7 linked regions of the Homo sapiens genome follow. The protein of the gene in region 1 purifies or fractionates together with the protein of each later gene. This does not show direct contact. Each region holds a gene or a part of one and is shown on either strand. Other genes may lie near its edges. The genes, in order: REEP2, RCBTB2, KCNIP2, TPR, KCNIP4, NUP50 and DSG4.

Evidence for each region.
Region 2: the proteins of REEP2 (region 1) and RCBTB2 purify together in Homo sapiens (affinity purification with mass spectrometry; one large-scale study listed by BioGRID and IntAct). This does not show direct contact.
Region 3: the proteins of REEP2 (region 1) and KCNIP2 purify together in Homo sapiens (affinity purification with mass spectrometry; 2 studies listed by BioGRID and IntAct, with this or other methods). This does not show direct contact.
Region 4: the proteins of REEP2 (region 1) and TPR purify together in Homo sapiens (affinity purification with mass spectrometry; one large-scale study listed by BioGRID and IntAct). This does not show direct contact.
Region 5: the proteins of REEP2 (region 1) and KCNIP4 purify together in Homo sapiens (affinity purification with mass spectrometry; one large-scale study listed by BioGRID and IntAct). This does not show direct contact.
Region 6: the proteins of REEP2 (region 1) and NUP50 purify together in Homo sapiens (affinity purification with mass spectrometry; one large-scale study listed by BioGRID and IntAct). This does not show direct contact.
Region 7: the proteins of REEP2 (region 1) and DSG4 purify together in Homo sapiens (affinity purification with mass spectrometry; 2 studies listed by BioGRID and IntAct, with this or other methods). This does not show direct contact.

Annotation. Positions count from the first base shown.
Region 1 is NC_000005.10:138,444,761-138,447,465, reverse strand, and holds the end of REEP2 (receptor expression-enhancing protein 2), read right to left. Parts: coding exon 2,599-2,705; intron 2,239-2,598; coding exon 2,091-2,238; intron 1,999-2,090; coding exon 1,868-1,998; intron 1,784-1,867; coding exon 1,715-1,783; 3' UTR 501-1,714; downstream 1-500. UniProt on the Homo sapiens protein: Required for endoplasmic reticulum (ER) network formation, shaping and remodeling. May enhance the cell surface expression of odorant receptors.
Region 2 is NC_000013.11:48,526,581-48,530,080, reverse strand, and holds part of RCBTB2 (RCC1 and BTB domain-containing protein 2), read left to right. Parts: exon of another isoform or gene 1-2,377; intron 2,378-3,500.
Region 3 is NC_000010.11:101,826,801-101,830,300, reverse strand, and holds part of KCNIP2 (A-type potassium channel modulatory protein KCNIP2), read left to right. Parts: intron 1-358; coding exon of another isoform or gene 359-403; coding exon 404-457; intron 458-1,101; coding exon 1,102-1,226; intron 1,227-1,411; exon of another isoform or gene 1,412-1,583; coding exon of another isoform or gene 1,584-1,604; coding exon 1,605-1,674; exon of another isoform or gene 1,675-1,841; coding exon 1,842-1,912; exon of another isoform or gene 1,913-2,042; coding exon 2,043-2,150; intron 2,151-2,307; coding exon 2,308-2,412; exon of another isoform or gene 2,413-2,441; intron 2,442-2,549; coding exon 2,550-2,612; coding exon of another isoform or gene 2,613-2,660; intron 2,661-2,900; coding exon 2,901-2,948; 3' UTR 2,949-3,030; coding exon of another isoform or gene 3,031-3,093; 3' UTR 3,094-3,500. UniProt on the Homo sapiens protein: Regulatory subunit of Kv4/D (Shal)-type voltage-gated rapidly inactivating A-type potassium channels. Modulates channel density, inactivation kinetics and rate of recovery from inactivation in a calcium-dependent and isoform-specific manner.
Region 4 is NC_000001.11:186,354,754-186,358,253, reverse strand, and holds part of TPR (nucleoprotein TPR), read left to right. Parts: intron 1-630; coding exon 631-857; intron 858-1,804; coding exon 1,805-1,968; intron 1,969-2,485; coding exon 2,486-2,619; intron 2,620-2,695; coding exon 2,696-2,844; intron 2,845-3,500.
Region 5 is NC_000004.12:20,850,273-20,853,772, forward strand, and holds part of KCNIP4 (Kv channel-interacting protein 4), read right to left. Parts: intron 396-3,500; coding exon 271-395; intron 1-270.
Region 6 is NC_000022.11:45,166,925-45,170,424, forward strand, and holds part of NUP50 (nuclear pore complex protein Nup50), read left to right. Parts: intron 1-1,241; exon of another isoform or gene 1,242-1,243; 5' UTR 1,244-1,253; coding exon 1,254-1,322; intron 1,323-3,500. UniProt on the Homo sapiens protein: Component of the nuclear pore complex that has a direct role in nuclear protein import. Actively displaces NLSs from importin-alpha, and facilitates disassembly of the importin-alpha:beta-cargo complex and importin recycling.
Region 7 is NC_000018.10:31,407,777-31,411,276, reverse strand, and holds part of DSG4 (desmoglein-4 isoform 2 preproprotein), read right to left. Parts: intron 1,826-3,500; coding exon 1,686-1,825; intron 1,533-1,685; coding exon 1,469-1,532; intron 168-1,468; coding exon of another isoform or gene 47-167; coding exon 1-46.

The sequences.
Region 1 (2,705 bases):
GTTTGTTTTTTGTTTTGTTTGAGACGGAGTCTTATTCTGTCACCAGGCTGGAGTGCAGTGGCACGATCTTGGCTCACTGCAATCTCTGCCTCCCACGTTCAAGCAATTCCCCTGCCTCAGCCTCCCAAGTAGCTGGGACTACAGGCACGCGCCACCATGCCTGGTTAATTTTTGTATTTTTAGTAGAGATGGGGTTTCACCATGTTGGCCAGGATGGTCTTGATCTCCTGACCTCGTGATCTGCCCGCCTCGGCCTCCCAAAGTGCTGGGATTACAGGCATGAGCCACTGCGCCCAGCCTAGGCCTCTGGTTTTATCTTGAGTCCCAAAACCATTTTCCCAGACTGAGCCCCCTCAAGCCCATCTCTTAGCTGGGCACCAGAGCTCCTGTCAGTCACAGGCTGGCCTCCCCACTCCCCCAGCTGAACCCTGCTTCTCACTTGAGGTCCTTCCCACCTGTCAGCTGGTGTGGCAAGAACAAAGCACAGAGGCCAAAATAAATGAGGTGCCAGAGTTTGGTTTATTGGCTCATCCAGTGCCAAAGGTCCAATGGGCACCCTCTTCCCAAGGAACCGGGAGCCCCGCGGCTCCTGCATTTCTCTTTCTCCTTCACGTGTTCCTCCTGGCCCTGACTGAAGCCGTGGCAGAAGCTGGGGCGGGTGTGAGCAGAGGCTGGGTTCTGCCAGGGGTCTTAGGGCCCAGTCTGCTTGGTACAGGATGGGGACCCTGGGCAAGAGGGGATGGACCCCAGGGGCAGAGGAGAGGGGCCCACTCAGCAGGGGCCTGTACCAGACAGAGCAGGGGTGGGCCCTGAGGAGCACGGGAGTCCAGCCCAGGGGCACGGTGGCAATGGGGTGACCTAAAAGGGAGCAAGGTCATAGGAGCAGGTGAGAGGCCCCCCAGATCCCCGTTCTCTCATGGGCTGGGTCCTCTGAGGCTCAGAGCCTAGGATGGAGGGTTGAGCAGGGAAAGGGCCAGATGACTGTGGGGCTCAGGGTGGGAGGAGGCGACTGCTGGAGGGACAGTCCTTGACCCAAACTACCCCGAGCCCTAGACCCAGAAAGACACACTCACACAGCCCTGGACCCCCCTTTTTAATGTGGGAACATGTGGCACTCAGCCCCACCCAATGACCAGGAAAAGAGCCCCCAGCTGCAGCTCTGGCCTGGCCATCCTGGTCGCTGAAGCACAGGCCAATCCCTGTCTTCCATCCACAGCTGCACCTGGAGGCCCCACCCAGGGTCCCCAACGTCCTCCCCGTGTGCTCCCTTTCCCCCATGTGCCTTCAGGCCCGTCCTTGGTCCATCTGGGCTAGGACTTCCCCCTCCCTGCTCCCAAACCAAGGCGAGCAGTGGAAACACGACAGGACCTCTGAGAAGCGGATTGCTATGGGCTTCAGCAAGGCACTGGGTGGGTGGGGCAGGGCGGGGCTGCAGCGGAACAGCGGTGGAGGCCGAGCAGTCCCCACCTCCTTGGGTGGCTCAGTCCTCAGCCTCTGGTCCACCCTCTACCCTCAACCCCCACAGCTGGGCCTCCTTCCTCTTTTCCAAGCCCCTTCCAGAAGAGTGGCCACTGGGCAGGCACCGGAAATGGCCATCTGCGGGGCCCAGGGGCCTGAGACACCTAGGCTACTGGCACAGTGTGGAGCAGGGGCTGGGTCTGAGGCCCCTCCTGAGGCTTCATCCTTGCTCTGCAGCCTGCGGGGGTGGAGGGGCTCAAGCTGAGTCGCCCCCGCCAGAGGTCTTCTTCTTGGGCCGGGTCTTCAGTGTCTTGGAAGCCAGTGGCTGTGGAAAGAAGGAGGAAGATGGGGCTCAGCCTGGAGCCGCCACCCCCTGCCTGTTTCCCCAAGCTCTGGCCAGTGCCCTCACCTCAGCTTTGGGCGCTTTTTTGATGGGTTTGGCCCTCTTGGGAGCTTTGTCTCCCATGTCATCCTCAGAAGCCTCTGTCCGGGAATCTGCCGGGTTTGTGCTGGACCTTAGACTCAGGGCAGGGTCATCTCCTGGGTGCAGGGAGAAAAGGAGGTGGGGGAATCTTTCCCATCTGGACTCCTTGCCCTTGGGGCCCCACCCCAACCCCGGGCCCTGCCTGTACCTAAGTCCTCGATGGTGTCCAGGAGGCTGCCAGGGCTGGGTCGGAGGCGGCCGTCAGGCCTCTGCAGGGGCAGTGCGTCCTCGTCCCGGATCAGGGTCAGGTCCTGCATGCTGAAGCTGCGGAGCTTCTCTGACAGCACCCCCTGGCCCTAGGGTCACCACCACGCACCGGGAGAGCCGGGGGGAAGGGGCGGGGTGGAGATAGAGGTCACCATGGTGCTGGCAGCAGCCCCAGGCTCGGTGCCCTCCCCACACTGTCCTCACCCAGTCCCACACAGACAGAGCTGAGGGCTGGGGCAGGGCCACACTTTGCCTCTGGGGACAGATGGGGAAATGGCCGGACAATCAAAGTGACTCGGCCAGATAGCAGTAGAGCCTGGACTGGAGCCTCCAGCTGCATGAGCCCAGAGTCTCTACAGCCCCGAGTACAGGGTGGATGCAAAGGGGCCTGGCCAGGGCCCTTTGTACAAGGTAGGGGCCCTGGGAGTCTGAGCCTGCCCCCATCTCACCTTGGCGGCAGCTGTGACTGCAGCATTGGCGGCAAGGTTCAGGCCCCTCTTGCCCACCCTCATCATGGTCTCATAGCTCTTGTCTCGGGCCTGCGTGATGTACTCGT
Region 2 (3,500 bases), on another chromosome or scaffold:
CAGAAAAACGAACAAAAAAAAAATGAGCCAGGCATGGTGGCACACACCTGTAGTTTCAGATACTTGGGAGGCTGTAGTGTGAGGATCACTGGAGCCGGGAAGGTTGAGGCTGCAGTGAGTCATGATCACACCATTGCACTCCAGTCTGGGCAATAGTGTAAGACCCCATCTCATAAATAAATAAATAAATATTGCTACAGATTAAAATTGTCCAGGAAAAGGTAGATTGGAGACCAGGAATTATTGGGGTTACAGAGTGACATTAAGGACTCTTGTTAAAGACTAAAAGAGAGTTCTACTTGGAGATTTTACTTCAAAGGAGTGGATGGCTTGCCTCCTGGTAAGGGATATTGATAATGTCCATCAATGGAAGGCTGAGATGATACTTCCAGCTTTCATTGTCTGGAAGGAACATGTATCTAGTTCACATGGTGATCACATTCTAACAACGTGAAAGTTTCCAGGAAACTTAAACCATAATAATTTTTCAGCATTAATTTGACATTAGAGTGGGTTTCTTTTACGTCTTCAGCCTTGCTAATTGGCCTGAGCTAATATCTCTTATGTATATCTCCCTATGGAAGATGTTTTGAGCTAACAAGTACCAGTAGGAGATAGTATGTGAATAAAACATAAATTTTGACTGCATTATAATATGTCCTGTATTATGCTGCGTGTATGTATGTATATAATACTGAACAAAACCAATCTCAAGTGGAAATGAGCCAAGGCCAAGAGGGCCTGCCATGTTGAAGGAATATATATGCTGTGGGTCAAAGATCTTTAACAATTAGGATCTCTGTAGCAGGCGTGTTAAGATTTTTTTTTGAAAAATTGGATTAAATCTATAAGGACCGAGATTTAAAATGGATTTACAAATGAGATCTCAAATCTCAACTCACATTAGTGCATATAACAACTTAAAAATATTTTTATCATTTATGTTGGTTATTTTTCATATTTGAAAATGACACTTTTGCCGTGTGTGGCTGAAAAGACTGAAGTTGTCAAGCTCAGTAATCTTTTCAATTAAATACCGCTTTGCTTTGTACTGAAGATCTGACTCATCACTCTTGTTGAAATTTGGAAAACTTTTTAAAAAAACAAATAATTAAAATAGCAACAGGGTTTCTGTATTCTACACAACAGTTTTCTGTTTTTCATGAACATATGACAATACCATTTCCTTTGAGGTTGTGTGCTAGTTTTAGTTATGCTTTTAGTGTTTTAGTTTTGTCCGTCCTGTTTATAATTGTTCCATTTTAATTAGCCATGTAGGTATTTTACTGTTACTTGTCATTGATTTTAGACATCTCATTTAAGTGGAGCTAATATTACAGCTAACACTATCCCTTTTTGCAAGTGAAAACTGGGATCATGTTTTATTGTATACGTATTTATATTATTTATAACTTGAAGATGACCCTTAAAAAGCTATTAAAGATACTATCTAATGACTCACCTAAGGATATATTTGGGAACCATCATTATCCTATTGAAATTTATGTGGTCTGCAGCTCATTAACACACCGATGCTGTAAACTGCATGCTGGTACCCTAAAAGATATCGATATTATTTAATTTCCTGTTTCTTTTGATTATAAAAGCATCATCAAATGTGTTACCCACCCAGATGGGATAATTTTAAGCATAGAGTTCTATATTGAGAGAATTCTAAAAATATCAGTGTGTTTCTCAAGCATAGCTTTAGAGTTGATCTCATTAAGTTGAATTTTAAAATATGTAATACTGGGACTTCTCTGCAGGAATTGCTATTTTTTTTCACCCCTTCTTCTGTAATCACTTCTAAAGAAGAATTATTAGCATTTAGAAGCCCCTGATTAACTGCAAAATGTCAGCATTTAAAACCTACCATTGGGTTGGGGTAATGTGGACAGAAGTCCCTAAGAGAGCTGGATATTGTTTTGCTCTACGTTATTCTGTTTGCTCTCATGTATTTGCTTTCAATTCAGTGCCTACTGCAGGCACTGAATTAATATTTGTTGAATGAATTAGGCAAATGAACCTATGTCCCATAATCAGCTTAACTCATTTTTTAGGTCAGAGGTATTACCGAGTAATATAACACATTGTGTAGCAGATACACTGATTAATACTGATTACTTTGCCACAAATAATATGTACAGACTGCCTGTTATATCTTTTGTACAGGCAAATGAATTATTTGACTTTATGTGAGGATTAAGAATGAATGTGTTTATCACATTATCAAAAGAGTGTCCCCTTGTTCAGTAGTCTTCAACTGTGTAGTTTTTAAAAGTGTAGAGAAAACTCTCAACATAGAATATATAGAAATAAGGAGTTATCTGCCCCAAACAGGGATACTTTAAAAATAAATTAGTGAACCGTACAATTAGGAAAACAGCTGAAATAGGAAATGTCATGTGACAGATTACCTTACTTGATATATATTTGGCTTTGAAACATTACTTTTGTACAGACTTGAACTACTGGCCACCGAGTGTCCCATTTGGAACCTTTAAAGACAGAGATCAGTGGCAGGAACTTCTGCGTGGAGAGGTTACTTATCATTCCATTTTCTATTTATATTGCAAGGCAAACATTAGTATAATAAGATTCTGTAAAAACAGTTTTAGGTTACATTTTAATAAAATGAGGAAATAACATAGGAGACTGTTTTGCAAAGAACAAAGCACCTTTTAATATAAATATATATCATATATATATATCATATATAAATATATATCATATATATATATATCATATATATATATATATGAGCCAAGTCATATATCCCAAAACAAACATATAAGGGAAAAACTAATAAAGTAACACATAGTAAGATAGTAAGATAATATTACTGTCATCCTATAGTAAGATGATATGAGATGATCTTATGCTGTAACACTGTCACTATGAAGAAAATCTTCCCAATACTGTTGCCAGCTTCTGCCTTGGCTCTACAAGAAACATTGCCCTCCTATGCAGAAAAGGGGGGACATTTGTAAGCAGATTTAGACCATAAGTAGAAAGCACATTTTTGCCATTTTAATACACTGATATTAAACATTTTTTTAACTATTTTGGATTTTTCTTACAGGTACAATAGTATAAATGCTACTCATTGGATATGTTATTTAATCCTCCTATTTAAAAAAAATCTATTTATTATTATTATTTTTTGAGATGGAGTCTCACTCTGTCACCCAGGCTGGAGTGCAGTGGTGTGATCTTGGATCACTGTAACCTCTGCCTCCCAAGTTCAAGTGATTCTCTTGCCTCAGCCTCCCAAGTAGCTGGGACTACAGGTACACACTCTTACGCCTGGCTAATTTTTGTATTTTTAGTAGGGATGGGGTTTCACCATGTTGGCCAGGCTGGTCTCCAAACTTCTGACCTCAATTAATCCTCCCATCTCTGCCTCCCAAAATGTTGAGATTACAGGCATGAGCCACCGCGCCCAGGCTATTTTTATTTTCTTAGAGACAGAGTCTTGCTCTGTTGCTTAGGCTAATGTG
Region 3 (3,500 bases), on another chromosome or scaffold:
ACGCCAGGGTATTTGGGTTTTCTGTGCCAGCCTGGTCCCCTGCTGAGTGATCTCCAGTTGAGTGACCTCGCTTTGTCTCTAGGTCTCCATTTCCTCAGTTGGGCCTTGCCCACCTCATAGGATCATACTGCATTTTGCAAACCATAAAGGCCCGCTTTGTAGTTATTTGAGCATGCTGTTGTGTTGGACTTAGATGGGTCCCACACGGGGGTGGATTCGGAAAAGGACAGGCGTGAGTCCCGCAAGCTTGTGTGCATGGGGTCCGTTTCGTGTGTGTCTGTGCTGGTTGGGTGTGCCTTTGCACGGGCTGGGTTGTGAGGTTTGCTCTGAGTGTGAGGGGCCAGGTGTGTGTCTGCAGTTGGCCGGGTCTTCCGCTTTCTCGGTGACAGTTCGCTCCCTTCAGCATTAGCCGCCCCAGCCTCCCTCCGCCCCCACAGACCCCGCCTGCTGGACCCAGGTGACTTACGCTCCTGGTGGGGGCGGGGCGGGGCAGGGCGGCTTTGCCATCTTGGGGTGGGGGGCACTTGCCTGGGGGCTGGACGTTGGGGGCGGGGCAGGATTGAGATGGGGCCGGGGGTGGGGTCTGGATGGAGGTTGGCTGAGCTGGGCGGGGCATGGCTCAGGCATGGCTGGGATAGATGGGGCTGGGCGGGGCGAGGGGAGGGGCTGGGTGGGACGAGGGGAGGGTTTGGGCGGGGCAAGGCTGGGGCTGGGCGGATCTGAGTTGGTCCCCGAAGGCCCGGAGCTCTGACCCTCAGACGCCCCCTCTTGAACTGGCTTTTCCCACTCCTCCCTTTCTAAAACGAAGATGCGGCTGGGGGCCTTCCCCTCCAACGAGGGATCGAGGGCCGCGGGGCGAGCACTGAGTCGGATCCCTGGCTCTGGGGCCAGGCCAGGCCTTGGCCCGCTGATAGACCTCGAAGATGGCCATCATCTTTTCTCCTTACCTCAGTGTCCTTGGCTCGGGGCCCAGGGAACTGGCAGCCTGGTCTCCGGCATCGGATGGGACCGGGGGGCGGGGAGGGGGTGAATGGGGCAGTGATTTGAAGAGGGGTCGCGGAGGCTGGGCCTGAGGCGCGGCTGTCCTCACCGCTCCCGCAGACAGCGTGGACGATGAATTTGAATTGTCCACCGTGTGTCACCGGCCTGAGGGTCTGGAGCAGCTGCAGGAGCAAACCAAATTCACGCGCAAGGAGTTGCAGGTCCTGTACCGGGGCTTCAAGAACGTGAGTGCAAGGCGAGGCCAAACTCAGCGAGGGTGGGACAGGAGGACCCAAGCCGGTCCACAGCTTCCCAGAAAGCATGGCTTGGATGCTTGAGGTGTGGGCGGAAGGGAGGCAAGGCCCTGAGACTGAACTTCTAGCTGGAGGTTCTGGGGCGGGGCCAGAACGGAAGTGGCGCCTGTAGACTGTCAGTTTCGTTCCATGTTTTTTATTTGTGCACTGGGAAAGAAGTCTTCCCTCCCATCACATGAGCCACGTGGTGAGTCCTCTGGAGGCTTGAAGATTATCCCCCTCCCTGGGAGTCTTGGGCCATGGAGGGTGGGGGCGGTGAACGGAAGGGGATTTTGTCTCTGCCCTCAGCCTGGTGCCCTCTCCTTCCAGGAATGTCCCAGCGGAATTGTCAATGAGGAGAACTTCAAGCAGATTTACTCCCAGTTCTTTCCTCAAGGAGGTGAGGGGACAAGGCCCAAGGGGAAGCAGTTGTCCTTCTCTAGGCTGAGGGAGGGAGGGATTCTGGAGGAGCTGGGAATGCCAAGGTGATGGGGGGTATGGGGAGCTCCTTAGAGGGAGGAAGTCCTCTCCTGTGTGGAAGCCAACTTCTCCACACTCACCCTGCAGACTCCAGCACCTATGCCACTTTTCTCTTCAATGCCTTTGACACCAACCATGATGGCTCGGTCAGTTTTGAGGTGAGCTGGGCGAGGTGGGCCAGGGAAGCCTGTTTCCTGGAGTTCAGGGCCAGGATCTCCAGGCCAAACCCAGAGAAGGAGTTGGGTGAAGAGTACCCGAGGACACAGCTCCCTCCTGCCTCCTTCCCAGGACTTTGTGGCTGGTTTGTCCGTGATTCTTCGGGGAACTGTAGATGACAGGCTTAATTGGGCCTTCAACCTGTATGACCTTAACAAGGACGGCTGCATCACCAAGGAGGTGCAGGGCAACTGAAGGGCTGGGGGTCTGTGGCGGTGATGGGGGTGGCGTGCAGAGGGTGATGGGAGGGAAATATGACCCACATATGCCCACAAGCAAGGGATCAAGGGAGGCTGGAGGCTCTGAGGAAGGATCCTCTTCTCTCTTGGCCTAACAGGAAATGCTTGACATCATGAAGTCCATCTATGACATGATGGGCAAGTACACGTACCCTGCACTCCGGGAGGAGGCCCCAAGGGAACACGTGGAGAGCTTCTTCCAGGTACTTGGGAGTGGGTAGGCTGGAGGGCCCTGGAGTGAAGGGAAGAAGGCCAAGAACCAGCAGGGAACTCACCTGACTTCTGTCTGCCTCTCTCTTGCCATCCCTCCTGTTCTCCCTGCCTGACCACCTTCTTGCAGAAGATGGACAGAAACAAGGATGGTGTGGTGACCATTGAGGAATTCATTGAGTCTTGTCAAAAGGTACAGCTCCCTGCCCTCTACATTACCCTGACCTGGACTCAGGCCTGATTTAGTAATGCAGGGAAAAGCTTCTTTGGGAAGAATACCACCTTCCCACCTCACCCCCATATTTCAATCCTATTCCTTTGTGGGAGGCTTACCCCTTCCCTACCTCAGGTCTCTCTGGGCATCTCCTTCCTCTGTGCTTTTGAATGTCCCCGTCTGTGACTCAGTGTCCCTCTCACTGTCTCTGATAAGCTCCTTCTCTTTCTCTCTCTTCAATCTGCCTCGCTCACATCATGGCCACAGGATGAGAACATCATGAGGTCCATGCAGCTCTTTGACAATGTCATCTAGCCCCCAGGAGAGGGGGTCAGTGTTTCCTGGGGGGACCATGCTCTAACCCTAGTCCAGGCGGACCTCACCCTTCTCTTCCCAGGTCTATCCTCATCCTACGCCTCCCTGGGGGCTGGAGGGATCCAAGAGCTTGGGGATTCAGTAGTCCAGATCTCTGGAGCTGAAGGGGCCAGAGAGTGGGCAGAGTGCATCTCGGGGGGTGTTCCCAACTCCCACCAGCTCTCACCCCCTTCCTGCCTGACACCCAGTGTTGAGAGTGCCCCTCCTGTAGGAATTGAGCGGTTCCCCACCTCCTACCCCTACTCTAGAAACACACTAGACAGATGTCTCCTGCTATGGTGCTTCCCCCATCCCTGACCTCATAAACATTTCCCCTAAGACTCCCCTCTCAGAGAGAATGCTCCATTCTTGGCACTGGCTGGCTTCTCAGACCAGCCATTGAGAGCCCTGTGGGAGGGGGACAAGAATGTATAGGGAGAAATCTTGGGCCTGAGTCAATGGATAGGTCCTAGGAGGTGGCTGGGGTTGAGAATAGAAGGGCCTGGACAGATT
Region 4 (3,500 bases), on another chromosome or scaffold:
AAAGTGTAGCTAAGTTAACAGACAGTTGTGTATTTTTTTCACATCCTTCTCTGTATGTGTATATACATGAGCATATATAAACATATGTAAGAATTATTTGATTTTACTGAAGTAAGACTGGACTGTATGCATTACTCTGACACTTAACAAGCAAATCAATAAATTAATGTCTCATTCATATATTTTACCCTAATTTGTGTGTGTGTACATCCACGCAATGCACAAATGTAAAAATTTCACATGAATGGCATTATATATATGCTTTTTGTTTAAATGTCTATTTTTCATGCTCTGCCCTATCATATATACAAAAGCACACACAAAAAAATAGATATTTGTGGGTTTTATTTGATCACTGTTTTACAAAACTGGAGCCATGTTTTGGGAATTGTAATTTGGCTACTTTGTAATAAGTAATAGCCTTCAATACATACTTAAAAGTAATTTTATTCTATTAAAATTTGATTGTTTAGATTTTAATATCCAAGGATGCTTTATTTTTAAAGATAATTTGAGGCAGTACAAGTTGAAGGTTTTATAAGTAATGTTTTAATTTGAAAACTTTCATTCTAAACTTGTCCAGAATTGTAACTAATACTATTTTATAACATATTAAAACTTTGTTTTTAGATTAGAGTGCTTTTGATGGAACTTGAAGAAGCAAGGGGTAACCACGTAATTCGTGATGAGGAAGTAAGCTCTGCTGATATAAGTAGTTCATCTGAGGTAATATCACAGCATCTAGTATCTTACAGAAATATTGAAGAGCTTCAACAACAAAATCAACGTCTCTTAGTGGCCCTTAGAGAGCTTGGGGAAACCAGAGAAAGAGAAGAACAAGAAACAACTTCATCCAAGTAAGTAGTCACATACCTCAGCTTGTTGAGCAAACATTTATGAAAACCTCAGCTAGGCTCAGTGTCTCATGCCTGTAATCCCAACGTTTTGGGAGGCCTAAATGGGGTATCATTTGAGCCCAGGAGGTCGAGACCAGCCTGGACGACATAGTGAGACCATGTCTCAAAAAAAAGTAAAAAATTAGCTGGGTGTGGTGGCACATGTCTATAGTCCCAGCTACTCAGGAGACAGGCTGAGGTGGGAGGATCACTTGAGTCCAGGAGTTTGAGGCTGCAGTGAAGCATGATCATGCACCACACTCTAAGTGGGACGACAGGGTAAGACCCTGTTGCCCGCAAAAAAAATCTATGTGTTCCTAACAGTGCTAGATACTTGGGATATAGTGATATAGGGAGGAAAGAATTGAGCAACAATACCAAACAAAAAATTTCTACTCCAAGACCTCAGGTTATGGGTAAGACAGATGTAATAAATAGATAATAAAATAGGCAAGTAGACAATTTGCATTCACTGTGATTAGTGCCTATCTGTGGGATCATAGCGGTAGAGGACTTGTCCTAGATTTCAGGGAGCAGACCGGCTTCATGGAGAACCTGGAGAACCTATGTAAGAATTAGTCAGAGGTTTTTTCAAAATACATGTATAATGTCTTCTAGAAGAGGAAGAATGGCTAAGAAAGCAAGAAGACTAGAGTTTGGAGTGAGTGGAACTGATTTAATTTTTACAAACAAATTTTTCAGATTGCATTGGTAAGTATAAGTACCTGAGTCCTGTGTGGTGGGGATTTAAAAAGTAGTTCATAAAATACTCAGCATGAAAAAAAATAATGAGAGAGACAAAAATGGTATGATGAATGGTAGGCAAAGATGCTTGGTTAATTACAGTAGAAATTACAATCAGTTAACTCTCAGTTCAGTCCTGTGAATTAGGCCGACTTTTTCTACAGAATCACTGAGCTTCAGCTCAAACTTGAGAGTGCCCTTACTGAACTAGAACAACTCCGCAAATCACGACAGCATCAAATGCAGCTTGTTGATTCCATAGTTCGTCAGCGTGATATGTACCGTATTTTATTGTCACAAACAACAGGAGTTGCCATTCCATTACATGGTAGGTTTTTATAAAGTTATTTTAAGGAATAATTTAGAAATGTATATTAAGGGATTAATTTTGCAACATAAGCAATAGCCACTCTAATGATGGTAGCTTCAAATTTGACTACCATATATAATTGCTTATAACATCCCATCAACTGTAAAACATACCATTATTTTATGTATTGCTAAAAAGAAATGCTTTCTATTGTTGAAAAAGGTGCATTTCAGAATCAATGAATTACAGTATTTATTTTGGTTATGTTTTAATGACCAAAACAGATATGTTTTAATAAAACATAAATATGGATTATGTTTTAACCCATAAATACTGAATTATCTCTAATAACCATCAAAAAATCTTAATACATTGTTTAGTAGATTCCTTATTTAAAAACTCCTATAATCTTATTGTTTCATTTCAATAAGTTTAGCTTGTTTATTTGATAATAGTGTATTTGCAAAGAAGCATTAGATTAAAGCTGATTTATGAAAGCCAACAAAGCATTTTATTAGTCTTTACTTTCCTGAAGCTTCAAGCTTAGATGATGTTTCTCTTGCATCAACTCCAAAACGTCCAAGTACATCACAGACTGTTTCCACTCCTGCTCCAGTACCTGTTATTGAATCAACAGAGGCTATAGAGGCTAAGGCTGCCCTTAAACAGGTAAAGATCACACCTTTGTCCTGGGTTAGGTTTTTAGAGAACACAGTGTTACCTTCTCATAATCTCCAATATTTAGTTGCAGGAAATTTTTGAGAACTACAAAAAAGAAAAAGCAGAAAATGAAAAAATACAAAATGAGCAGCTTGAGAAACTTCAAGAACAAGTTACAGATTTGCGATCACAAAATACCAAAATTTCTACCCAGCTAGATTTTGCTTCTAAACGGTAAGTTTTCTTTTGTTTCAAATTAATTAAGTCTAAATGTTATACTTTACAATTCAAATCATTTAAATTCAAGAGCTAATTTGCAATAGTGTTGCTTTTTTTGTGAACTGTGTTCCAGAATGAGAACCTCTGGTAGTTCATTTTTTTCATATTGATTAATGATTCTCTAGGCAGTGCTAAGGGTTTAGCTTGTTTGATAAGTTGAAGCCAGGCGCAGCAGCTCACGCCTGTAATCCCAGCACTTTGGGAAGCCGAGGCAGGTGGGTCATTTGAGGGCAGGAATTCAAGACCAGCCTGGCCACCATGGTGAAACCCCATCTCTACTAAAAATACAAAAATTAGCTGAGCGGCAGTGTTGCATGCTTGTAATCCCAGCTACTCAGGAGGCTAAGGCAGGAGAATCACTTGAGCCCAGGAGGCAGTGGTTGCGGTGAGCCAAGATTGGGGCCACTGCACTCCAGTCTGGGCAAGAGAGTGAGATTCTGTCTCAAAAAAATAAAATAAAATAAAAATAAGTTGAAGTTCATGTGAGGAATGTTGGTAGTTTACCTTCCTAAGATTAAAGGACTTGTTTCGGTAGGACTTAATTCTTTTAAAAATGCACCAGATGATGAGAGAAATGAGAGCAAATTTTATTCCACCTTTTCTATTCTAGG
Region 5 (3,500 bases), on another chromosome or scaffold:
TGAAGAGAAAATATTTCAACCAAGAACTGAATTGAATAAAACTTTCTCAGAAACTCTTTGTTTAATGGGCAATCACAGTATGCCAGCATGGGTGTGCCACAGAGAATCAAAGTCCACAGATACTGATTATATTCCTATCTGGGAAGGATCAGTATGAAATATACATATGATGGGGCTCTCATAGAATGGGATATTTTCCCCCTTTTCCTCTCATTTCTCAATGCTCCTCTGGGAATTGTGTGAAGGTAAAGTCAAAAAGAAAGTTCTTACATTCTTAAATCCTCTGTAAAGGATCTGAAGCTCTTTCTTGGTAAATTTGCTCTGGGCTTCCAGAAGCTCAAGGGCTTCAGGCCGATGCCTGACGGTGGCCATCTCCAGTTCATCTTCCACGCTGTCTGTGGAGGAAAACAAGAAAGAGTCTTAGGACCAGCCACTGCTCACCGATGCTTACACAGAGCAACAAAGGAAAACGGAAGAACATGTCTGCTAATGTCTGTGACTGTCCACAGAGGAAGGACCCTCACAATGCCTATAAGGCCTTTACATTTCCCAGTTTAAGCGTATTAAGCTAAAACACTTGTATATGATTTTTTTGCATATTCTTGTCATTAATGTAGATATTACAACCCTAGCATTGTTTTAAGACAACAAAAAAGAGCACAGGAATTTATTTCAGATAATCAGTGGATTATATGATTACGTCAAACAAAAAGTTTAAGTAGCAATATATATTACTCTATAAATCTAACAGTAACATATATTTCTTTTTTCCCCAACGTTTAAGTTCAGAGGTACATGTGCAGGATGTGCAGGTTTGTTACATGGGTAAACATGTGCCATGGTGGTTTGCTGCACAGATCATCCCATCGCCCAGGTATGAAGCCCAGCATCCATTAGCTGTTCTTCCTGATCCTCTCCCTCCCCCAACAGGTGCCCAGCATGTGTTGTTCCCTGGCAGTGTCCATGTGTTCTCATCAATCAGCTCCCACTTACAAGTGAGAACATGCAGTGTTTGGTTTTCTGTTCCTGCATTAGTTTGCTGTAGAGAATGGCTTCCAACTCCATCTATGTGCCTGCAAATAAAATGATCTCTGTCCTTTTTATGGCTGCATAGTATTCCATGGTGTATATGTACCACATTTTCTTTATCCAGTCTATCATTGGTGGGCGGTTAGGTTGATTCTGTGACTTTCCTATTGTGAATAGTGCTGCAATGAACATATGCAGGCATGTATCTTTATAATAGAATGAATTATATTCCTTTGGGTATATACCCGGTAATGAGATTGCTGGGTCAAATGGTATTTCTGCCTCTAGGTCTTTGAGGAATCACCACACTACCTTCCACAATGGTTGAACTAATTCACACTCCCACCAACAGTGTAAAAGTTTCCCTTTTTCTCTACAACCTCACCAGCATCTCTAGCATTTTTAAGGTATAGTTAGAAAAACATAGAAGATCACAAATAGTCCAACCTGGAATTTGTTTCTATATAACAACCACTAGTTATAAACAATGGAATTGTCATTTAATAATAATCAGTTTTGTGCCCTATGTAAAATGCAACTACAAGATAGCCTCTGATAATGTTCACTAAGGATTCCAATGAAATCAGATATTTTGCACAGCTACTTGGGAGGCGGAGGTGGGAGGACTGCTTGAGCCCAGGAGGCTGAGGCTGCAGTGAGCAGTGATGGCACCACTGCAGTCCAGTTTGGGTGACAGCATGAGACCCTGTCTCAAACAAACAATCAAACAAACAAAAAAAATAGAACCTTAGACTCTCAGAATGGAAGGACATCTGAAGAAAGATATAAGGAGATAGAGAAAGAAGGAAACCTCCCTAATTCATTCTATGAAGCATCACCCTAATAACAAAACCAGCAAATGACATAACCAAAAGAGAACACTACAGACTGATATCCTTGATGAACATAGATGTTAAAATCCTTAACAAAATACTCACTAGCTGAATCCAACAACATATCAAAAAGATAATCCACCATGATCAAGTGGGTTTCAAACCAGGAATGCAGGGATGGTTTAACATACGCAAGTCAATAAATGTGATATACCACATAAACAGAATTAAAAACAAAAATCACACGATCATCTCAGTAGATGCTGAAAACCATTCAACAAAATCCAACATTCCTTTATGATTAAAACTCTCAGCAAAATTGGCATACAAGGCACATACCTTAATGTAATAAAAGCCATCTATGACACACCCACAGCCAACATAATATTGAGTGGGGAAAAGTTGAAAGCATTCCCTCTGAGAATGGAAACAAGATAAGGATGCCCACTCTCACCACTCCTCTTCAACATAGTATTAGAAATCCTAGCCAGAGCAATCAGACAAGAGAAAGAAAACAAGGGCATCCAAATTGGTAAAGAGGAAGTCAAACTGTCATTGTTTGTTGATGACATGATTGTTTACCTTGAAAACCCTAAGGACTTCTCCAGAAAGCTCCTAGAACTGATAAAAGAATTCAGTGAAGTTTCTGGACAGAAAATTAATGTACAAAAATCAGTAGCTCTTCTATACACTAACAGTGACCAAACAGAGAATCAAATCAAGAACTCAACCCCTTTACAATAGCTGCAAAAATATAAAATACTTAGGAATATACCTAACAAAGGAGTCAAAAGACCTCTACAAGGAAAACTACAAAACACTGTTGAAAGAAACCATAAGTGACACAAACAAATGGAAACACATCCCATGCTGGGTAGAATCATGGATGGGTAGAATCAATATTGTGAAAATGACCATACTGCCAAAAGCAATCTACAAATTCAACATAATCCCCACAGAATACCATGATTATTCTTCACAGAATTAGAGAAAACAATTCTAAAATTCATGTGGAACCAAAAAAGAGCCCGCATGGCCTCATAGAAAAAGCAAGACTAAGCAAAAAGAACAAATCTGGAGGCATCATACTACCTGATTTCAAATTATACTATAAAGCCATAGTCACCAAAACAGCGTGGTACTGGTATGAAAATTGGCACATAGACCAGTGGAACAGAATAGATAATTTGGAAATAAACCCAAATACTTACAGCCAACTGATCTTTGACAAAGCAAACAAAAACACAGAGTGGGGGAAAGGACACCCTTTTCAACAAATGGTGCTGGGATAATTGGCTAGCCTCATGTAGGAGAATGAAACTGGGTCCTCTTCTCTCACCTTATACAAAAATCAACTCAAGATGGATTAAGGACTTAAATCTAAGACCAGATACTGTAAAAATTCTAGAAGATAACATTGGAAAAACCCTTTTAGACACTGGCTTAGGCAAGGATCTCATGACCAAGAACCCAAAAGCAAAAGCAAAAGCAATAAAAACAAAGATAAATAGCTGGGACCTCATTAAACTAAAGAGCTTTTGCATGGCAAAAGGAACAGTCAGCAGAGTAAACAGACAACCCACAGAGTGGGAGAAAATCTTCATAATCTATACATCTGACAAAGGATTAATATCCAGA
Region 6 (3,500 bases), on another chromosome or scaffold:
AAAATCACTAAAATGTATTAAAAGCTGACAGCCCGTATGTAATTACTCCACTGGCCATCAAATTGTAGAGGCCTTTGGAATACCAGCATTTGCATTTTACTTTTAGATACTAAAGAGTGATATGTCACCTCATATCTTAGCGACCACTTTGTGGGGTTGTAATACACTCTGTATTACACAATACACCAGAATAAGGAAGCTTACTCTGGTGTATTGTGGTGTTGAGAGCAAACAAGAGTGGGGAGAGTATCACGAAGGAGTTCAGGCAGGTTTAACAAGACCTGGCAGGTCCCCAAAACTAATCAGTAAGTTTTTGGGCGAGGTGGGTAGCAGGGGAAATGGAAAGGTTTTTTGTCCAGCTGGAGAGTTAGTGAAGAAGGCAGCACAACACTCATAGCGGAGCTCTGGGTTGTGGGTTTTCTTTGTTTTGTTGTTATGATATTAAGATCAGAAAACAAATCGTAAATTTTAAGGGATGGACAGGAGCACCCTCTTTGGTTAGGTGCCGGAATCCACTGCAGAGTTCACGCCGTTCCCCAACTCCTGCCCCTTCCACTAATGCCATCGTATTGAAGAGTTAAGCCAATGATTTGTTTTTGAAAGGTTATAAGTTCCCAGAATACTAACACACCCATGTTAATCATTTTGGACTTCTAATTGTCTTGGCAATATACAATTTGAAGCAACAAAATGTTCAGTCTTGGGAACCATGTATCTCTGTCGGCTGTAGCTTAAAGAACAGTATTCGTGTTGTGGAGGCGTTTCCAGCCCGTTATTCGTATTCTTACTGAAAGATACACTTCTTTAATGGGTCATCTTTAAGAGAATTTTAAATATTAAAATTATTTTCTTTATGACAAGACTTTCAGTATGTATATGCGTAGAATAAGTTAAGGACTTTTTGATTATATATACAGTACTTCAGATTCCAGATTTTTAAAAAATCAATTGATATTTCATTTTAATTTTTCCAAATGGAGTCGGTTTAGTGTTGTTCAGGACTGCTGGTGTTCCCTAGGAATCTTCTTCTGCCTCCTGGAAAAAGCCTTTATTGATTTGTAACACTGGGAGCCTAACAGCACCAATGTAAAGTTCTCATTAAAGCAGTTTCCAGATGCTTTTTTTCCCTGATAAAAAAACCAGAGATGTTTTTATCTCACTTCATGCTAGAGTGAATTTTTAAAATTCTTTATAAGAATTTATTCTTCTAGAAAAATAAACTCTTCTGTTTTCTATAACTTAGGTTCGAAAACATGGCCAAAAGAAATGCCGAGAAGGAACTGACAGATAGGAATTGGGATCAAGAAGATGAAGCTGAAGAGGTAAAAAGCAGCTTCCCTAAGAATGATTTCCTGTTTCTTTTGCCTTTTACATTCATTTTGGGGTTCCTCATGAAGACTTGTGACAGAACTAAAAGACCTTTCTAAGAACATCATGAATGGGAGATGACAAGAAATTATATGACCTGTACTTAGTGTAGATATTTATTAATTACATTTCTGTGACCTCTAGTTAGTGTAGAAATGTATTAATTACATTTAGATGTGCTTTTCCACTAGTGCCTGCTCCTTAAATATTCTCCTTAGTAGAAGCACTTTTCCTCCTGAGTTTCGTATACTTGAAGCATTCTGAACCCATGTTTGCAGTAAGCCATTTTAGTCATGACTGAAGGCTGAGTTAAGTGATGTAGTCATGAACTTAGCACACTGCCCAGATGTGAAAGTGGTACACCATCACCATCTTGGTCTGTGGTACTCCGTTTCCCTAATGCTTCTTGGAGGCCTGCTTTATTTCCTTTTCTTAATGGTAGACCTGAGACCCCTAACAATTGCATTTATAGGAATAGAATTGAGATTGGCCTAGTTCCTTTTCCAGCAGAATAAAAATGGTCTCCCCTGAGGAAATCTGATCATTTTTCCCTTATAAACAGTAGGACTGGGCAGCATAGAGAGATCCCGGTCTCTATAAAAAAAATTTTTTTTTTTTTTTTTTTTTGAGACAGAGTCTCACCCTGTTGCCCAGGCTGGAGTGCGGTGGCACAACCTCGGCTCACTGCAACTTTTATCTCCCGGGTTCAAGTGATTCTCCTGCCTCAGCCTCCCGAGTAGCTGGGATTACAGGTGTACACCACCACACCCAGCTAATTTTTGTATTTTTAGTAGAGACAGGGATTCACCATGTTGGTCAGACTGGTCTCAAACTCCTGACCTCAAGTGATCCACCCGCCTTGGCCTCCCAAAGTGCTGGGATTACAGGCGAGAACCACCGCACCCAACCCCCCAAAAAATTGTTTTAATTAGCTGAACATGGTGGCATGAGCCTATAGTCACAGCAATTTGGGAAGCTGAGGCGGGAGGTTTGCTTGAGCCCAGGAGTTCAAGGCTGCTGTGACCTGTGATTGCACCACTGCACTCCAGCCTGGGCAACAGGGTGAGACCCTGTCTAAAAAACAAAGAATAAAACACAGCTGTACTTATAGGATGTGGGCGAAGGATTACCCAGGTGCCGAGGCAAGAGACTGAAGGCACAAACTGTTTCAGTATAATACATAAAATAGTTAGAATAAGAATAGTCATAATACAAATTAGATACAGAGATGATCACGGGCATTATCAATCATTAGTATAAACATTACTAGTCATTAGCTTTTAATATTACTCTTTGTTGTACTACTAATATAACCAAGGAATAACCGGCAGATACAGGGTCAGGTGCTGAAGGGACATTGTGAGAAGTGACCTAGAAGGCAAGAGGTGAGCCAGCCCTCTGTCACGCCCGCATAAGGGCCGCTTGAGGGCTCCTTGGTCAAGTGGTAACGCCAGTGCCTGGGAAGGCACCTGTTACTTAGTAGACCGTGAAAGGGAGTCTCCTTTACTTGGAGGAGTCAGGGAACACTCTGCTCCACCACCTTCTTGTGGGAGATTGGATATTGTCCAGGCTTGCCAGTAGTCATCCAGAGGCTTGAACCCCTCCCTGTGGTGCTGTGCTTCAGTGGTCACACTCCTTGTCCACATTCATGCTCCTCCCGTAGTCCTGGTTCCTCTTTGAAGTTCTTAGTAGATAGCAGTAGAAGAAATAGTGAAAGTTTTAAAGTCTTTGATCTTTCTGATAAGTGCATAGAAGAAAATGCTGACGTACGCCGCCTTCCTTCTCTGCTTCAGCTACCTAAAAGGGAAGGGCCCCTGTCCCATGATCACGTGACTTGCTTGACCTTGTCAATCCCCTGGACGACTCATCCTCCTCACCCTGCTCCCTTGTCTTGTATGCAATAAATATCAGCACGCCCAGCCATTCAGGGCCACTGCCGGTCTCCGTGTCTTGGTGGTAGTAGTCCCCCAGGCCCAGCTGTTTTCTCTTTATCTCTTTGTCTTGTGTCTTTATTTCTTACAATCTCTGTTTCCCCCTTCGAGGAGAACACCCGCAAAGCCCAGTAGGGCTGGACTCTACAGTCGTACCTTATCAGCAGTGTGTTACCCCCAGGCCAGATGACTAAGGAAATC
Region 7 (3,500 bases), on another chromosome or scaffold:
CCTCCTTCCACCGTGCCCCCGGCTGCATAGGTGTTGGTGTAGATTTCTGAAAAGGGAGGATGTTGGTTTAACAGCGCTGGAGTTGCCTGCAGCGCGCATCTGCCTAAAACGCTGCCGCCGCCGTCTGCGGTGCCACCACCACCCGGCAAGGCGTAGGCGCTAAAAAGCTGACAAAGAGAGATACAAGTTACACCGATACATCTCCAGGCTTGTTGACCAAATAAAAGTAAATTAATTACACAGAGGGAGTCAGTGGTGGGACGTGGCCTTCCCACATTTGCACAGACTTCGCCCTAGACTTAAAGGTGTAGAACTAGCCAAGAGAACTACAAGCAGGCGCCCGTTCCCGCCGTGGCTGCTGCGGGCTTGATCCAGCCGGGAGCCCTCCAAAGCAAGGCCAGCGGCGTGATTGCAGAAACTGAGCTCATAGTCCTCCTTCACTCCGGAACAGGATGGAGCTGGGCTCACAGGGATGTTCAGTCACGGAGTTTCTTTGCATACAAAGGGCCAAGCTTGGGATACTAAGGAACCATCAGAGAAAGCTCACGTGCACTGCAGAATTAAGCACCCTCTCTGTTTGGTGCAATCATTGCCATATAGCTAAGTAGTGTGTTCAGTATTGTTAGATATGCGTGGGGCTGGTAAGATAGGAGAGTTTACGACACTCTTTTGAGGCAAAAGCTTGTCTGAAGTTAAGAAAAGTTATTCAGTGTATTATTAGAGTACATTTACTGCCTTTTCTTTAGCTCTTTAAAAAAAAACAGCTTGTATTATAAATAATTACTACAGTGCCAGGCACTACTCTAACGTATATTTTGTGATATATGTATATATACACACTTATATATGTGTGTGTGTATATATATAGACACACATACACATGTATGTTATATATAATAAAATAATCTATACAATATATGTATGTATTATATATTACATATGTAATATGTATTATTTACTCCTCACAGCAACACTTTAAAGTAGGTACTATCATAAGCTCAATTTTAAAGATAAGGAAACTGAGGCCCAGTGAGGTTAAATGTCTTGACTAAGGACTTATTACTACAGGTTGAGCATCCCAAATCCAATAATCAAGAATCCAAAATGCTCCTAAGTCTGAAACTTTTTGATCATCATGGTACAAAAAGTTTGAGCCAAACTCAAACTCATGGTCCTATGCATTTCGGATAAAAGATATGCAACCCTTAAGCAAGTGGCAGAGCTGGGAATCAAACCCAAGCATTCTGCTTCCAGAGTTTGCTCTTTTAACTGCTGTGTCATACTTCACTGTCTGTAGTTTCAGATAGAAAAAAAAAGTGGCTACTTCAAACAGGTCACATTCCCTCTAATTATACTGTCACCCAAAGAGACTGACAGACTTTTCCATAAGGTACTTTTACATGAAGTTGGTCTGGTTGAATAATTTTGAAAAATTTAAAAGGAAAAACAGATTTTGGTGTCTACTGACCAGAGGAATCCATCCGATCCTGGGTATTTGAGGCTGTCATGGGTGCACATATATTTGACACATCCTGAAAAGAAAAATAAACATTTTAAAAACAAACGCTTTATGTTAAACATTTAAAAACTGACATCTGTTCATTTTTGTGCAGCATGTAATTGTTAAGACATGCTCAATTTCCACTGAAACTCCACACTTCTCTGGAGAGTGACAGTCCACTTACCCTGTCCTCGGGATGGGCCCCTTCAATTCTCCAAGACTGCATCACTCCTTCTCCGCCCTCAGGCACAGGAGCAAATCTTGTTCCCAGGCCTTCTGGCTGTCTCTGTTTGCAGCAACACAGGAGCAGCAAGAGTGGAGCCACTGCCCAAGAAAGTGACAATGTCGAGTTAACACACATTGCTCGGTTTAGGAAGTCACTGGATGAATCATTCTGGGGAGCATTTGGTGGCAGTATATTTAGAACAAAAATACAAATATATGTAAGAAAATCTCATTTTTTTCCTTTAGGGGATTGAGTATACATATCCAAGTTTATAAATACAGCACCACCAAATCACATAGAACTTTAGCGCTAGATGGCAAGGAGTTTGCGATCAGGTAATTGAATTTCTTTGCTGACAGATTAGGAAAGTAAGGTCGTCTTTAGTCTAAGACTCTTGAACTGGTTGGGGCAGATGCACACATACATGTAAGTTAAACGCATCATGAATATATGTTATCAAGAGGATTGAATACAGGATTCAGCTATAGGACCTGGAGATAGGACCTATCTTCAATCCTTATTACAGTTACACTTAAAATAGAAGTCAAATAATACTCACTAAATTTAATGGAGATATTTACAATTATTTTAAGACTTTGTTTATAGACTATAATGAAAAATTAAAGCTATCAAAAATGTTTAGCTATCCAAGTGTTTCTTAAGAGGAAATTTCCTATTTGTTACCCTAATAATCACCTCAATTCTGTATTTTAATCCATAAATATAGACACTGCTTAAGTTTTCTAAGATTCTAGAATACACTCTGTTTAGTTCTTTGGGCCCACTCTGGTTGCTTTTCATACTTTCCTAATTCTCTAGCATGGCATGCATTTTACTAAGTGGGTTAATTAAAGATAAAGAATAGAAGGATAAATGCTTGAGGGGATGGATGCCCCATTCTCCAGGATGTGATTATTTCACATTGCATGCCTGTATCAAAGCAGCTAATGTACCCCATAAATATGTACACCTATTATGTACCCACAAAAATTAAAAATTAAAAACAGATACAAAAGAAGAGACTATCAAAGTTGCAAAATCAGCTTTAGTCTTATTACAACAATTAATTTGGCAATTTTGCCATCTGCACTATGAACAGTGAAAGGTCAAGTTATACATTTCCATAGCATTTTCTGGAAAAGGACTAAAACTAAAATTGGTAGCCCCTAGGCCATGGTTCTGCCTATTCTATATTTCTGTGAATTTAAATGTGAGCTGGATCATGTACCATTGCAGGCCTGAACTCTAACAAAGGCACTATCTAATAAATGAAATGAAGTGTTTTTAGCACATACCCAATACAATTACTGTATGTGTAATCTCATTTGGAGCTAACATCAAAAGTGTCAATTTGAGGCCCTTTGGGAACATAGGTTTGGGCTCAGATCCCTCCCACTACCATCACACTGCCCCCTCTCTCCTAAAATAGACCATGGGCTTCTCCATTGAAAACAAGTGTCCATAGGGGTATTCCTCTCCTATTCTACAATCCATCAGTTGAACAACTCTCATGCTTTCTTTGTCTGGGTCAGGAAAAAGTCTTGAAATTCTTAGTGCTAACGTTCTGGAAATGCAGCTGGCACTGGGTTTTTAGCCCTGAACTGCACATTAGTCTCACCAAAGGGCTTGAACATGCTGATGCTTGGTCTCATCTTGAGTATGACTCTAGTATGAGTAATTTTGGAAGACCTTTAACTAATTCTTATGTACAACTAGGGTTGAGAACCGCTAACTCAAAGCTTACCCGAAACCACTACTCAATTGCTGTAGAGT